Regions from separate parts of the Homo sapiens genome. Here region 1 is linked to region 2. A link means that fine-mapping ties the variant in region 2 to the plasma level of a protein whose gene starts in the linked region. Region 2 holds a variant in brackets. A gene starts in the other region. All regions are shown on their reverse strands. Region 1 holds the start of MSMB (microseminoprotein beta). Region 2 has its middle 5.4 kb from the start of PI16.

The links. A credible set is the group of variants that fine-mapping cannot tell apart. PIP is the chance, under the fine-mapping model, that this variant and not a neighbour inherited with it causes the effect. The UK Biobank Pharma Proteomics Project read protein levels with antibody pairs (Olink). The fine-mapping took linkage between variants from a reference panel, not from the people measured, so its PIPs are less certain.
Region 1: MSMB starts here. The variant in region 2 is the best candidate, but not a certain one, in a credible set for the plasma level of the MSMB protein (UK Biobank, PIP 0.59).

The regions. Positions count from the first base shown.
Region 1 is chr10:46,042,161-46,050,492 of GRCh38, reverse strand. MSMB (microseminoprotein beta) reads left to right here and starts at 4,224. Exons shown (of 4, transcript NM_002443.4): 1 at 4,224-4,258. The coding sequence starts at 4,256. RefSeq lists an enhancer at 5,774-6,275.
Region 2 is chr6:36,945,196-36,953,499 of GRCh38, reverse strand. It overlaps a transcript of PI16 not described here. Among named protein-coding and RNA genes, the nearest start is that of PI16, 5.4 kb to the left of the region's middle. The variant T/C (reference allele first, on the strand shown) is at 647.

The DNA.
Region 1 (8,332 bases), not on the chromosome of region 2:
GGGGATAGTGTGGCTGTAGTCAGTTAAAGTTTAAAATCTCTACATGTCAAAACATATCATTTGAGAGGTAAAAATATAAATGAGGAAAATTTCTCATTCCTTAGTTCTAACTCCAGAATGGGTGTGCTGACCATGAAAAAAATCAGGGAAATATTTTAACATGTGTGACACTTGAAGATTAATATCTTTAATATTAGAAGCCTTAACTAATCCAGAAGAAAAATATAAATAACCCAAACAGAAAAATAGCTAAAGGACATGAGTGAACAGGGTACTCACAAAAGAAGAAAAACAATTGGTCAATACATATACAAAAAAAGGTCTAGGCTGTGCACGGTGGCTCACGCCTGTAATCCCAGCACTTTGGAAGCCCGAGGGGGGCAGATCACGAGGTCAGGAGATCAAGACCATCCTGACTAACATGGTGAAACCCCGTCTCTATTAAAAATACAAAAAATTAGCCGGGTGTGATGGAGGGTGCCTGTAGTTCCAGCTACTCGGGAGGCTGAGGCAGGAGAAGGGCGTGAACCTGGAAGGTGGAGCTTGTACTGAGCTGAAATTGCACCATTGCACTGCAGCCTGGGAGACAGAGCGAGACTCCGTCTCAAAAAAAAAAAAAAAAAAAAAAAAAAAGGTCTAATCTTGCCAATTAGCAAAGAAAAATAAATTAAGACAAAGCATTTCCCACATATCATAGTAACAGGTGATAATCTAAGAGAATTATAATTTTCTTTTACCCAGAAATTCTACCTTTGTGATTTTTTTTTTTTTTGAGATGGAGTTTCGCTCTTGTTGCCCAGGTTGGAGTGCAATGGCGTGATCTCAGCTCACAGCAACCTTCGTCTCCCGGTTTCAAGTGATTCTCCTGCCTCACCCTCCGGAGTAGCTGGGATTACAGGCATGCTCCACCACGCCCGGCTAATTTTGTATTTTTAGTAGAGACGGGGTTTCTCCATGTTGGTCAGGCTGGTCTCGAACTCGTGACCTCACGTGATCCACCCACCTCGTCCTTCCAAAGTGCTGGGATTACAGGTGCGAGCCACCTCACCCGGCCTCTATGAATTTATCTTAAAGAAATTAGTATAAGTGTGGGAAATTTTTATCTGAAGGACCTGGATTTCAACAGCGTTTCTTTTTTTTTTTTTTGAGACAGAGTCTCGCTCTCTCGCCCAGGCTGGAGTGCAGTGGCGCGATCTCCGCTCACTGCAAGCTCCGCCTTCCGGGTTCACGCCATTCTCCTGCGTCAGCCTTCCGAGTAGCTGGGACTACAGGCGCCCGCCATGACGCCCGGCTAATTTTTTTGTATTTTTAGTAGAGACGGGGTTTCACCATGTTAGCCAGGATGGTCTCGATCTCCTGACCTCGTGATCCGCCCGTCTCGGCCTCCCAAAGTGCTGGGATTACAGGTGTGAGCCACCATGCCCAGCCCAGTGTTTCTAATTATAGAAAAAAAAGTCAGAAACAACCTGAGTGTTCAACAAGAGGTACCTGACCAAATAAATGATGGTCCATATCATTCCATGGAATAAAATGTAGCCATTAAAATGATAATCAGCCTGGGCATGGTGGCTTATGCCTGTAATCCCAACACTTTGGGAGGAGGAGGCAGGAGCATCACTTGAGCCCAGGAGTTCAAGACCAGGCTGGGCAGCATAGCAAGACCCTGTCTCTACAAAAAAAATCTAAAAATTAGCTGGGTGTGGTGGCACGCTCCTGTAGTCCCACCTACTTGGGAGGCTTAGGTGGGAGGATCAATTGAATCTAGGAATTGGAGGTAACAGTGAGCTATAATGGTGCCACTGCACTCCAGCCTGAGCAGCAGAGCAAGACTATGTCTTTAAAAAAAATTAAAATAAATAAAAAGAAAAATAAATAATTAAAAGAAATTAAGTTGGTTCCATCTATAAGGATGACAGTTGAGGTAGGATCAACACTGAAAACTGATCAGGCAGGTTTGGACAGAGCTGGCTGTCACACACCCGGAGAGCACTGCTCATTTCATTTGCCTTCCTCCCTGTGGGCAGCTGGCCACACCTGCTCTGAGCATCCCTTTCTCAACCCCTGGGGAGCAGTAGATGAGCTCATTTCAGCAGTGATATGGGTTGGTCTTGCCAGGATACTTTCTACTTGGGAATACCTGAGATAACCCAGGTGAAATCCTGTTCTGGGCAGCTGCTTTGCACCAGGCACCCTGCTGGTCACTGGAAGGCACACAGACAGGAATAGGTCACAGTCACTGTCTGGGTCACAAAGTTCTTAACTGCAAACAATAGAATTTACTCTAGGTCATTTGAGGTGGAAAGAGATTTGTTAGAGAATTCAAGCCTCTACTAACGGCCAGAGACACAGGCTTTCTTGGCACAAGTTCAGGTAGAGCACTGAAACCACACTGCTGCTTGGCTCCAGCAAGACCACCTTGCTACCAGTCACAGTCACAGCCCCCATGCACTGACACTGCACACTGGACTCCAAGAAACCCTTGCCCTAAGAGCCAGAACCCTCCACACCATCATTCCTAGGGAGATTCTGCATGATGCCAGTGTCCTTGGACCCTCTCTGAAGAGGACTTTTTGAGAGGAGAGTGTTTGTGGAGCCGAGGTTTGTGCCTGTACCCTGGAGGTAAGCAGGTGAGGGCAGCAAATCCTAGTTCCTCTCAATGTAAGGCAGAACTTCCCACTTCACACTGTGGGAAGTTCTTCAAACTTGGAGTTTTAAAAGAATCCAAGGGGCTACAGTGCATGATGAATGTGCCCCGATTTCCTGGAACTTAGAGTCGATGAACACTTAACTTATGCAGGTAAAGGCAGAAGTGTGTGGCACCGTTGGTGAGTGAGGAGGCAGCCAGACAGCACTACAGCTCTTCTAAGGAGCAGGAGAGTGACCTCAAGCTGTGTTAGGGGTGGTGAGGCTGATTTTAGGGAGGGTAGAGGATGGTGCTGGAAAGGGCCACTGTGGCCAGCTCAGATGAGCTTCAAGGATCCCCTGGTTAGGAGCATGAACTCTCATCTGTGGGCAGAGGGATCTCAGGTTAAATTTTAGGAACTGTAGCAAGCTGTGGCGAGGAGTGAGGGGACTTTTTGGGATAAAATTGTCTTATGAGCTCAATTGCATCCCCTAAAAATTCATTGGTTTAAGCCCTAACCCCCAATATCCCAGAATGTGACTGTAATGGAGACACGGCCTTTAAAGAGGTGGCTTAGGTAAAATGAGATAGTTAGAGTGGACCCTAATCCAATACAGCTAGTGTCCTTATCAGAAGAGGAAATTTGGACACAGAGAGAGATGCCAGGGATGCATGCCATGTAAGAGGCAGCAAGAGCATGGCCATCTGCAAACCAAAGAGAGAGGGCTCAGAGGAAAACAAGCCTTCCCCAATGGCTTGACCTCACATTTCTAGTCTCCAGAACTGTGAGCAAATAAATTTCTTTAGTCAAAGCCACCCAGTTGCAGTGTTTTGTTGTGGTGGCAGAGCAAACAGATAAAGTAGTAAGTCCCTCCAGCACCCTAGGAGGTTCTGCTTGTTGCCATTCCCCAAAGGCCATCCTAGCCATGATGAGGGCAGGTGCGGTTGTTTGGGAGGAGACCACTGTGGAACAAAGAGAAACAAGGCTTGCTTGATGCAGCAGGGAGTAGACTACAGATTCAAGAAGGGCTCTAGAAAGGTCCAGCAATTCAGCTTGTCAGGGAACCCCGAGCTGTATGTAGTTCTTGCTCTCCTGTGCCCTGCAGGATGGCTTGACCCATTTCTGTTCTCATGTCAGACCCTAAGGGCAGGGTCATCTGGGCCACAGACCCAGGCCCGGTGGGCCTGGTGGGCTGACCTGTGGGCTATTCTTATGCCTTCAGGAAACCCACCTTTACCACCTGGCTGTTGTGACTGGCATCGCTGAGGCTGTTTCTTTGTGTATAAAATCGAATAAGGACACATCACGTGCTAGCAATCCACCAGCATAGGGCGAAGGCTCAGCAAAGAGAAGTTCTCTCCTCCTCTGCTCTTTTAGGTCAGCAGCAAATGCAGATCGGGGTGGGGACAAGGTAAACACATAACTTGGGTGGAGATGTGATTGATTAATAACTCATAAATCATCTGAAACCATACTTTCCTTTTGATAGTCAACCCTCTGTAAACACTCAATGTGTTCTCACCTTGTTATCATTCCCAATGATGTCGAATGCGTGGTTGCCCTCTCCAGTATAAAAGTTTGATGCAGCTTTGCCTGGATGTACCTGTCTATAAGGAGTCCTGCTTATCACAATGGTAGGTAACTGGTTTTATATATAAAGGCTAGAAAAGCAAAAGAGAATATGTATTCCTATTTTAATATGCGTGTGCTTCTACCACATAGCATTGAATGGTAAATGTGACCTAGTTAGGAACCTTATGTTATTACCTGCAATTCAATGTGCAGAGTATGAGAGTCTGAGAGCTTGCGAAAATTGTAATGAGTTTAGCACTAGTTCTGTTCTCTAAGATCTAAGTTGTTTTTCCTTCCAGTAATTCTGGGGTTCAATTAGATTTCATAAGTGTCTCTAATTCTTGGGTCCTATGTGAGTAATTTGAAATTAAAAATAATTTCAGAGCTACATGACTGCATCGTTTTTGAGATGAGGGAACTGAGCCTGGGGAGGGGAAGAAGCTGCCACTGGGGTCTCACCGCAAGCCTGTGAATGAGCTGAGATAGGAACCCAGGCATTCCTCTCTCCCTGCCAGGGGCTCCCAAACTTGGCTGTGCAGTGGAAACTCCGGGGGAATTTTGAAGAACACTGACACCCATCTTCCACCCCGACACTCTGATTTAATTGGGCTGCAGTGAGAACAGAGCATCAATTTAAAAAGCTGCCCAGGTCATTTTAATACTCAAGTTTGGGAACCATTTCCCTAGGCCCTTTTCACTGTATCATGTGTTAAGGAAAAATCTTGGGTTTGGGGCTGTGTTTGTTGGTTTATTTGTTTGTTTTTGAGACAGGATCTCACTCTGTTGCCCAGGCTGGAGTGCAGTGGTGCAGTCATGATTCACTGCAGCCTGGACCTTCCTGGGCTCAGGTGATCCTCCCATCTCAGCTTCCCAAGTAGCTGGGACCACAGGCGAGTGCCACCATGCCCGACTAATTTTTGTATTTGTTTTAGAGATAGGATTTTGCTATGCTGCCCAGGCTGGTCTTGAACTCCTGGGCTCATGCAATCTGCCCACCTCAGCCTCCCAAAGTGGTGGGATTACTGGTGTGAACCACTGTGCCTGGCCAAGAAAGAATTTTGCTTCAAAATTTATAAAAACCCATGCAGGCTTTTCTTGTGTCTTAAACTTGATCTTTCTTAAAACATTCTTTACTAACGCTGGGGACTGAACTGGGCTGCTCTGGGGGCTGCAAGGGAGATGAGGCAAGAAACAGCCAGCCAAGTGGGAGGAGCCAAGGGAGGTGGGAGAGGGTCCTCAGGAGGGGACCCCGGGCCTCCTCTGGGCCACTCGGCAAGACAAACTTGCTCTCAGAAACTGTCCGGAGGCAGAACTGGGGATGGTAAAACAACAGTGGGGTGGGAGGTCCTCCCCATCTCCACTAGACAGGCTCCTCCAGCCTATACTCTATGCAGCCTCACAGTGAACTTAGCAAGCTGCAGAGCTGGCAATACCTCTGCCTGCCTAAGATCCTGAGGACCCCCAACTCTTTATTTATTTATTTATTTATTTTATTATTGTTATTTGTAGTAGAGATGAGTTTTTACTATGTTGCCCAGGCTGGTCTCTAACTCTTGGGCCCAAGTGATCCTCCCACCTTGGCTTCCCAAAGTGCTGGGATTACAGGTGTGAGAAATTATGCCTGGCCAGACCCCCAACTCTTGATCATGGGATAACCCTTCCAGGAGCAGTAATTTACCTAAAGAGATACAACTTTTTTTTTTTTTTTTTTTTTTTTTTTTCTGAGACGGAGTCTCTCTGTCGCCCAGGCTGGAGTGCAGTGGCGCAATCTCGGCTCACTGCAAGCTCCACCTCCCGGGTTCACGCCATTCTCCTGCCTCAGCCTCCTGAGTAGCTGGGACTACAGGCGCCCGCCACCACGCCCAGCTAATTTTTTGTATTTTTAGTAGAGACGGGGTTTCACCATGTTAGCCAGGATGGTCTCGATCTCCTGACCTCATGATCCACCCGCCTCGGCCTCCCAAAGTGCTGGGATTACAGGCGTGAGCCACCGCGCCCAGCCAAGAGACACAACTTCTAAGGATACTGCCAGCCTGCTTCACCTCAAGGCTCGCTGTACCATCTAGAAAATCCTAGCCCATTCTGGCGTCGTGGTGTAATCTCCTGCACACATCAGGAGCTCAGGGTTACTAAATGCAGGAAAGGAAGACACAAAGGGAAGGAAGGCTGGTGGCAGAATAGAAGACAGGAATGAAAAAAGCTTTAGAGCCTCTCTACTCAGGGGTGGACCTCAGACCAGCAGCGTGGGCATCACCTGGGAGCTTCCGTGTAAGTCTAAAGACCTACTGAAGCAGAATCTGCAGGTTAATTAACAGGCTGTCTGGTTGGGCGCGGTGGCTCACGCCCATAATCCCAGCACTTTGGGAGGCCGAGGCGGGCGGATCATTTGAGGTCAGGTATTTGAGACCAGCCTGGCCAACATGATGAAACTACGTCTCTACTACAAATACAAAAATTAGCCAGGTGTGGTGGTGCACTCCTGTAATCCCAGCTACTCAGGAGGCTGAGGCAGGAGAATCACTTGAACCCGGGAGGCGGAGGTTGCAGTGAGCCAAGATTGCATCACTGAACTCTACTCTAGGCGATAGAACGAGATTCCGTCCCAAAAAGAAACAAACAAACAGACAAACAAAACAAAACAAAAAAAACTCCCAGGAATTTATATGCACATTAAAGCAGCACTGGGTTGGTCATTGTTCCTGGGTTCTCACCTGGGAGACTAGGTAAAGACACTGAGGCACTGGCTCCTAGATTGTGTTTCCTATGAGCTCCCTGGATAACTCTAATGGTCACCCAAATGGGAGAACCCCTCTTTTTACAGGGAAGGAAAACTGAGTTTCAGAGAGAGAGAGAGAGAGAGACAGAAAGGGAGGGAGGGAGGGAGGGAGAGAGAGAGAGAGACAGCATTAGGCTATTTCTGAGATACTGTCAAGTGGATAATCTCAAAATTAAATAATTTGCTCTCTGCTGTCACCATGTTTGGGCTCTCCCCCAGTGGTTCAATCTCCTGCCTCTGCTCTAGAGCTGCAGGAGACTTGGGGATTTTGCACATGTCACTTGTCCTGGGATGCAGCCCTGCTTGTCCCTGTTGACTCTCCTGCTTTGTGACTCAGTGAAACCAGATCCCCAAGATTCCAGTGATCCCCAGTACCCCAGGAGCCCTCTTTCTGCATGAAGGGAGTAAAAATGCTGTCAACAAGGCTGGCTTTTTGGGGGGAAAAGTTTAGGTTTCCACAATGATTTCGAGCTGAAGGCTACTCAGAAGAATGAAACAGAACAAGTGCCACTCCAAGTCCTGGCTTGAGCTGAATGTATCAAGGCGTTGTGTCATTTTTAAAGAATCTTTCTTTCTTTGTGGCTATAAAACTCATATATTTTATTGTAGAAAATTTAGAAAATAAGAGGAAAAGTCCAAAGAAGAAAATTGTCATAATCTCCCCATCCAAAGATGACTTGTTATTTGGTACAAAACCCTCAGTGTGTTCTGAGCATCTCTCTCCGCATCATGTATTTCATAGCCTGCTTCATTTCATGTCGTGACATGTGGTGATCAATTGCTCATGTGACTTCACCTTCTACCTTGCTGGCTCACCAGGTGTTTTTCTGAGTCACTGTTCTCCACTGGCTCTGTTCTTGGGCATTTTGTTTCTTTCCATTTTTCCACTGCAGTGAGCATCGTTGTGGAGGAGTCTGTCTCTGTCTCTGTCTCTGTGCCATTTTTAGGATCACATCTTGGAGATGAAAAGGTGAAATCAAATGTTGTAAACGGTTTTAAGAATGTGGATATATAGTAGCAAATTGTTCTCCTTAACGATTGTTCAAAGTAAGTCATTCTTGTGCATATCACCTCCCATAGATACCTCTATTTCCCTCTGGGTATTATAAATTAAATGATTATTCTCACCATCCCATTATGCTTCTATTTCATGCTACATATTTACATTTCTTTTGTTATCAGTAAGTTGAACTTTTTCATGTGTTTATTCATCATTTCTGTGTGTGTGTGTCTGTGTGTGAAATGCCACTTTATTTCTCTTGCCCTTTTTCTGTTTAAGATGTTTTTCTTCTCCCATTGGTATGTAATGATATTGTTCTGAAAATTTGATATCTTTCTAATTTCAGTTATGTTCTTATGA
Region 2 (8,304 bases):
AGCAAAGTTGCAGGATACAAAATTAACACATAGAAATTAGTTGTTTCTATACACTAATAATGAAAAATCCAAAAAGGAAATTAAGAAAACAATTTCATTTATAAAAGCAATGAAAAAGAATAAAAAGAATAAAATTCTTACCAATAAACTTTTTTTTTTTTTTTGAGATGGAGTCTCGCTCTGTCACCCAGGCTGGAGTGCAGTGGCATGATCTTGGCTCACTGCAACCTCTGCCTCCTGGGTTCAAGTGATTCTCCTGCCTCAGCCTCCCAAGTAGCTGGGACTACTTGCCCACCATGCTGCCCACCATAGCTGCTACCATGCCCGGCAAATTTTTGTATTTTTAGTAGAGATGGGGTTTCACCATGTTGGCCAAATGGTCTTGATCTCTTGACCTCGTGATCCGCCCGCCTCGGTCTCCCAAAGTGCTGGGATTACAGGTGTGAGCCACTGCGCCTGGCCCTTAGCAATAAACTTAACCAAGGAAGCAAAAGACTTGTACGCTGAAAATCACAAGTGTTGACAAACAAAGTGAAAGAAGACACAAATAAATGGAAAGTCATCCTATATTCATGGATTAGAAGACTTGATATTGCTAAGGTGTCAATGTTGCCTGAAGCAATCTACAGATTCAATGCAATCCCTA[T/C]TGAAATGCAAATCATAATATTTTTATAGAAACAGAAAAATCCATCCTAAAATTTATATGGAATCTCAAAGGACCCCAAATAGTCAAAACAATCTTGAAAAAGAACAAAATTGGAAGTCTTACAGTTTCTGATTTTAATATGTAACCACAAATCTACAATAATTAAAATAGTGTGGTATTAGTATAAAGACAGACATTTAGACTAATGGAATAGAATAGCCCAGAAATAAACTCTTACACATATGGTCAAATGATTTTAGACAAGGGTACCAAGACCGTTCAACGAGGGAAAGGCAAGTCTTTTAAAGAAGACTTAGAAAACTGGAATGTCCACATGCGAAATAATGAAGTTGAATCTTTACCGTAAGTATATTAAAAAATTAACTCCAAAATGGATTAAATACCTAAACATAAAAGCTAAAACTACAAAACTCTTAGAAGAAAATATAAGGGGGACTTCTTGGCATTGGATGTGGCAAGGATTTCTTGGATATGACACCAAAAGCATAGGCAACAAAACAAAAATAAATTGGACTTCATTAAAATTAAGAACTTTCGGGGGCAGAGTGTAGTGGCTCATGCCTGTAATCCCAGCACTTTGAGAGGCCAAGGTGGGTGGATCACTTGAGGTCAAGAGTTCGAGACCAGCCTGGCCAACATGGTGAAACCCCGTCTCTACTAAAAATACAAAAATTAGCTGGGTGTGGTGGCAGGCGCCTGTAGTCCCAGCTACTCAGGAGGCTGAGGCAGGAGAATTGCTTGAACCTGGGAGGCAGAGGTTGCAGTGAGTCAAGATCCAGTCACCGCATTCCAGCCTGGGTGACGGAGTCTCAAAAGAAAAAAAAAAAAAAGACACAATTTCCCATGAACTGGGAAAAAATATTTGCAAATCATGTATCTGATAAGGGATTAATATCTAGGATATATATTTTGTGGGTTTTTTGTTGTTGTTTTTGAGACAGGGTCTCGCTCTGTCACCCAGGCTGGAGTGCACTCGCGCAATCTTGGCTACTGCAACCTCCGCCTCCCGGGTTCAAGTGGTTCTCCCACCTCAGCCTCCCAAGTAGGCTGGGACGTCAGACATGCGCCACCATGCCTGGCTAAGTTTTGTATTTTTAGTAGAGACAAGATTTCGCCATGTTGGCCAGGCTGGTCTCAAACTCCTGACCTCAAGTAATCTGCCCGCCTTGGCCTCCTAAAGTGCTGAGATTACAGGCATGAACCACCACACCTGGCCAATATCTAGGATATATTTTTAAAACTCCTACAACTCAACAACAACAACAACAACAAAACAATTTGAAGTCGATTCAGTGGCTCAGCACTTTGTAATCCCAGCAGTTTGGGAGGCTAAGGCGGGCCGATCGCTTGAGACCACAAGTTCAAGATCAGCCTGGGCAACAAGGTGAAACCTCATCTCTACAAAAAATACAAAAATCAGCTGGGCATGGTGGCATGCACCTGTAGTCCCAGCTACTAGGAAGGCTGAGGTGGGAAAATTGCTTGGGCCTGGGAGGTCAAGGCTGCAGAGAGCCGAGATCACACCACTGCACTCCAGACTCCAGCCTGGGCAACAGAGGGAGAGCCTGTCTCAAGAAAAAAAAATTTGATTAAATAGGCAAAGGACTTGAAAATTCATTGTTCATTTATGCAATTATTCATGCAATTATTCATTGTCGAAAAGACATTTCTCCAGAGAAGATATACAAGTGGCCAATTAGCACATGAAAAGATGATCGACATCACTTACCATTAGGGAAATACAGTGAAATACCACTTCACACTCATTAGGATGGCTATTATTAAGAAACAAAACAAAACAGAAAATAGCAAGTGTTGACAAGGATATGGAGAAATTGAAACCCTTGTACATTGCTTCTGGGAATGTAAAAGGTGCAGCCACTGTGGAAGACAGTGTGACGGTGCCTCAAAAAATTAAACACAGAATTACCATATGAGCCAGAAATTTCACTTCTGGGTATATACGCGAAAGAGTTAAAAGCAGGGACTTGGCCGGGCACGGTGGCTCAAGCCTGTAATCACAGCATTTTGGGAGGCCGAGGCGGGCGGATCACCTGAGGTCAGGAGTTCGAGACCAGCCTGACCAACATGGAGAAACCCTGTCTTTGCCAAAAGCGCAAAATTAGCCGGGTGTGGTGGCACATGCCTGTAATCCCAGCTACTCAGGAGGCTGAGGCAGGAGAATCGCTTGAACCCAGGAAGTGGAGGTTGCGGTGAGCCGAGATCGTGCCATTGCTCTCCAGCCTGGGCGACAAGAGCGAAACTCCATCTTAAAAAAAAAAAAAGCAGGGACTCAAACAAATATATTTGTACACCGGTGTTGATAGTAGCATTAGTCACAATAGCTAAAAGGTGGAAACAACCCAAATGTTCATCAATGAATGAACTAATAGTGTAGTATACACAAAATGTACGATCACATATACAATGGACTATTATTTTGCCTTAAAAAGGAAGGAAATTCTGACACATATTACAACATGGATGAACTTTGAAGACATTAGGCTAAGTGAACTAAGCCAGACACAAAAGAACAAATCTTACATGATCCCACTTATATGCAGTACCTAGCTAGAGTAGGCAAATTTATAGAGACAGAAAATAGAATGGTGATTGCCGGGGGCTGGAGGAAGGAGAGAATGGGGAGTTAGTGTTTAGTGGTGTAGAGGTTTGGTTTGGGAAGAGGAACAAGTTCTGTTGATGGACGGTGGTGATGGTGACAATGCTGTGAAAGTCCATACTTAATGCCACTGAACTGGACACATAAACATGGGTAAGATGGTAAATTTTATGTTCTATATTTTACCACAGTAACAACCACCACCACAAAAACAGGAATTCTTACATTGGCCAGGAGTACGGTGACAAAGGAAAAATCGTGTCTGGAGGGAGCCTTTACAACCCAGGCCACTTGAGCCACCATGAGAAAAAAAAAAAATATCCAACTTTAGCTCACAATCAGAAAGTATCAAATGCATCAGGAACTGAGTCACCATGAGCAACAGACAGACAGCATACATCACAATAGGAGAATTTCTGACCCTGAAACTTGAGATAATAGAACAATCTGAAAAAGACTTCAAATAACTGTATTTACAATGAATATGCAAATAAATGGGTAGCTGAAAAGGGGAGAAGGAAGACTTAGGGGGTAGAGGGGAACAAGATGTGGAAAAGAATCGGAAGAATTCAGGAAAATGGGTTAGTCTGGGGAGAAAGGGACGCTATTTGAGAAAAATCCAAGTGGAGGAAAGAAGACTGACCAGATTAGACTACAGCCCAGACCCCTGGGCAGCTGTCCCAGGGTGTTCAGGTGGCAAAGCTGTGAGATGGATCTCTTTCCTCCATAGACGGGAGAACTCAGTGAGTTCCTGACAACTTAGGCTTGAGATAGAAATAAGGGGACTTAGTGACCGGGCGCGGTGGCTCAAGCCTGTAATCCTAGCACTTTAGGAGGCCAAGGTGGGCGGATCACCTGAGGTCAGGAATTGGAAACCAGCCTGGCCAACATGACGAAACCCCATCTTCACAAAAAATACAAAAATTAGCCAGGTGTGGTGGTGTGTGCCTGTAGGCCCAGTTACTTGGCAGGCTGAGGCAGGAGAATCACTTGAACCCGGGAGGCGGAGGTTGCAGAGATCACGCCACTGCATTCCAGCCTGGGCGACAGAGCAAGACTCCAGTGAGAAGAAAGAAAGAGAGGAAGAGAGAGAGAGAGAAGAGAGGAGAGAGAGAAAAAGAAAATAAGGCTGGGTGCGGTGGCTCACACCTGTAATCCCAGTACTTTGGGGGTGGATCACGAGGTCAAGAGATTGAGACCATCCTGGCCAACCAACATGGTGAAACCCTGTCTCTACTAAAAATCCAAAAATTAGCTGGGCGTAGTGGCACACGCCTGTAGTCCCAGCTACTTGGGAGGCTGAGGCAGAATAATCGCTTGAACCCAGGAGGCGGAGGTTGCAGTGAGCCGAGATCGCGCCACTGCACTCCAGCCCGGGTGACAGAGTGAGACTCTGTTTCAAAAACAAAAACAAAAACAAAAAAGGAAAGAAAGAAAGGGAAGGGAGGGTGGGAAGGGAGAGAAGGAAGGGAAGGAAGGGGAGAGAGAGAGAGCGAGAGAGAAAGGGAGACAGTAAGGAAAGGAGGGAGGAAGGAGGGAGGGAGGAAGGAGGGAAGGAGGGAGGGAGGAAGGAGGGAAGGAGGAAGGAAGGAAAAAAAAAAAGAAAGAAACACAGAGCTGGGCGTGGTGGCTCAGGCTTGTAATCCCAGCACTTTGGAAGGTGGAGGTGGGCGATTGCTTGAGCCCAGAACTTTGAGACCAGCCTAGGCAACAAAGTGAGACCCTTTCTCTATTTCTAAAAACTTTTAAAACATTAAAATGAATAAAATAAAATAAAAACAGACTTCCCAAGGAATTAAAGTGCTGACCTGGCCTGGGAAGTGCTGGACTCAGGAATGGAAGGACACAGTTCTCAGATGCCCCCCGGGTGGAACCAGGCACTGGCACTACAGGTTGCCCTGGTGTGGTCATCTCTGTGGCCTCTGCCTCCAGTCATGCCCCTTCAATAGCAAGGAAAACAGCTCCGTAGATGCAGGACAATGGGCAGCATTCATTCACTCAACAAAGGCTTACAGAGCCTCTCATTGTGCCAGGCGCTGAGCTGGGTGAACAACAGCAGGAAACCAACCAGCAACCACAGGCAGTGTTGTGGATGAGAGTGTGGGGCTTACCGGCTGGGTGGCCTGGGGCAGGTGATTTCTCTGCTCACTGGCCTGTTTCCACATCTGTACACTGGGGCTTAGAACAGAACCTACCTCCTAGGATGGTTGTGAGCATTAAATGAGTTAGTACATGGGTAGGGCCTGTGATCATCCCTGGAACATAGTAAGTGCTCATTGAGTTAGCCAGTATTCACATACAGCAGGTCCTTGAATAACGTCATTTCATTCCATGTCTTTTTGTCATGACATTGGTAAGAGAAAAATTCGATTCCTGCAGGGGCCACTGTCTGCGTGGTGTTTGCATTCTCCCCACGTCTGCGTGGGTTTTCTCCCATGTCCCAAAGCTGTGCACGCTAGGCTCATTGGTGAGTCTGCATGGTCCCAGCACGAGTGAGTGTGGGTGTGTGAGCACCATGTCCTGTCCAGGGTAGGTTCCCACCTGGCATCCTGAGCTGCCAGGATGGGCTCCAGCCACCCACGACCCTGAACTGGAATAATTGGGTAAATAATTATCTTGTTTTTCTTTCTTTCTTCTTTCTTTCTCTTTCTTTCTTTTTTCTTTCTCTCTCTCTCTCTCTCTCTTTCTTTCTTTCTTTCGAGAGAGTGTCTCGCTCTGTCACCCAGGCTGGAGTGCAGTGGCACAATCTCAGCTCACTGCAACCGCCACCTCCTGGGTTCAAGTGATTCTTGTGCCTCAGCCTCCTGAGTAGCTGGATTACAGGTGCCCACCACCACAGTCAGCTAACTTTTGTATTTTTAGTAGAGATGAGGTTTCACCAAGATGGCCAGGCCGGTCTCGAACTCCTGACCTCAGGTGATCCACCCACCTGGGCCTTGCAAAGTGCTGGGATTACAGGCGTAAGCCAGTGCACCTGGCCTAATTATCTTGTTTTTCTTAATTTTTCTTAAATGTATGTATAGCTTACATTCATTTCAGTGTTTAATATTAGAAGTGTTTTGATCTTTAGAAGTTTGGTGATGTTTTTGTCACCAGAAATATGTCACAGGAATTCTATTCATTTATATCAATTAGCCTATGGTAAAATTGGTTTTGTTTCCCTTAAAGTTGCAGTTTCCAAGAGTCTATCAGCAACTTAAGTGAGAACTTACTGTATTTGTTATTATATATCTTCCACCTGTTATATATAACAGGTGGAAAAGTTTGCATAGCCTGAGGCTATAGCAAAGAAAAAAAATACAGCAACCTGACTTGGCTTTTACCCTGGGGAGGACTGCCTTGGCCTGGGAGAGCTCCTAGGTAGAAAGGGAGGACACACCCCTCTCTGAGGGACAGGGGCACTGGTTGAGTGTTGCCAGGATGTGGGCTGGGGAGGCCTCCTGGGAAGGGCATTTGGTTGGAAGCAGAGACACCTGGCTTGCCTGAGAGGGTTGGGTGAGATGGGAATGAAGACTGGGAGGCTGACCAGAGCCAGCCAGCGCATGTGGGGACCCAGGTGTGCAGACAGAGTCCACTCTGCGTGTGCACACTTATACGTGGTTCACAGAGCTTCTCCCATTTGAGTGACCTCACCCACTCCTCACAGGATAGCTCTCCAAGGTGAGTCTCACTGTCACCCCGCATAAGGAGACTGATGCTCAGAAAGGTAAGTGATTTCCCCAGTATAGGTCGGGGAGGGTCTGGAATAGTGACAAAGTGGTGGGACCAGAGCCAGGGACCTGCCACTAGGAAAAGAGGGCAGTTAAGGCAAGCACATGGAGGAGAGAGAGGAATGGAAGAGGTGAAGTTAGGGGAGGGTGAGAGGGAGAAAGAGAAGGCAGCATCAGAGTAGACGGTGTGTTTTATCCATAAACCCAGACTTGGGGAAAATAGATTTTCTTCTGTATTATTATTTCTGTATATTTTAAATCAAGTTTTATTTTGAACAGCAGTATAACTCCATAACAAAAAAATAAGCCAAAAAGGAAAAAAAAATAATTCCATCTCTGGCATTTGCTTCTCGTCTGAGCAGGTGGTCCACAGCCACTCAAAGTGTGGTCCACGGCCCGGTGCTGGTCTGCCAGAGATTCGCCACTGTTTTTCAGCACAACAGGCCCAGAAAATGAGAGTAAATGTTTAGAAACTCTTACAGCAATTGGACATGGTTGTTTTCTGCCTGTTGAATCTATGATTTAAAAGTTGGGCTTGTATTTCATGTATCTGCTTTTCATTTCATTTTTATTATTTATTTATTTTATTATTTTTTTTTGAGACCAAGTCTCGCTCTGTCACCCAGGCTAGAGTGCAGTGTCACAATCTCTGCTCACTGCAACCTCTGCCTCCCCGGTTCAAGCAATTCTCCTGCCTCAGCCTCCCGAGTAGCTAGGATTACAGGGGTGTAACACCACGCCCAGCTAATTTTTGTATTTTTAGTAGAGACGGGGTTTCACCATGTTGGCTAGTCTGTTCTCGAACTCCTGACCTCAGGTGATCTGCACCTGCACCGTCTTAGCCTCCCAAAGAGCTGGGATTACAGGCATGAGCCACCAAGCCTGGCCTGATAACTTTTTATTTTGAAATAATAATAGACTCACAGGAAATCACGAAAAAAGTACGTAAAATCCCATGAGCTGTTTACCCAGATTCTTCCAATGATGACATCTTATATAACAATAATACAATACCCAAACCAGGAAATGGACATTCATTTTCCTAATAGGTAATGATTTTGAACATCTTTTCCTGTGTTTTCTGCAACCCACATATCCTCTTTGGTGGACTGTCTGTTCGTGTCTTCTAGTTCTATTTGGATTTTTTTTCTGTTGAGTTTTGAGAGTTCTTTATGTATTTTAGATACAAGTCCTTTGATGGATATACATTTAATCATTTATTTTTACGATATTTTACAAAACTTTACATTTGGGATGGATTGGAAATTTTATAAAATCAAACTGGTCAATCACCACTGACAGTTTGA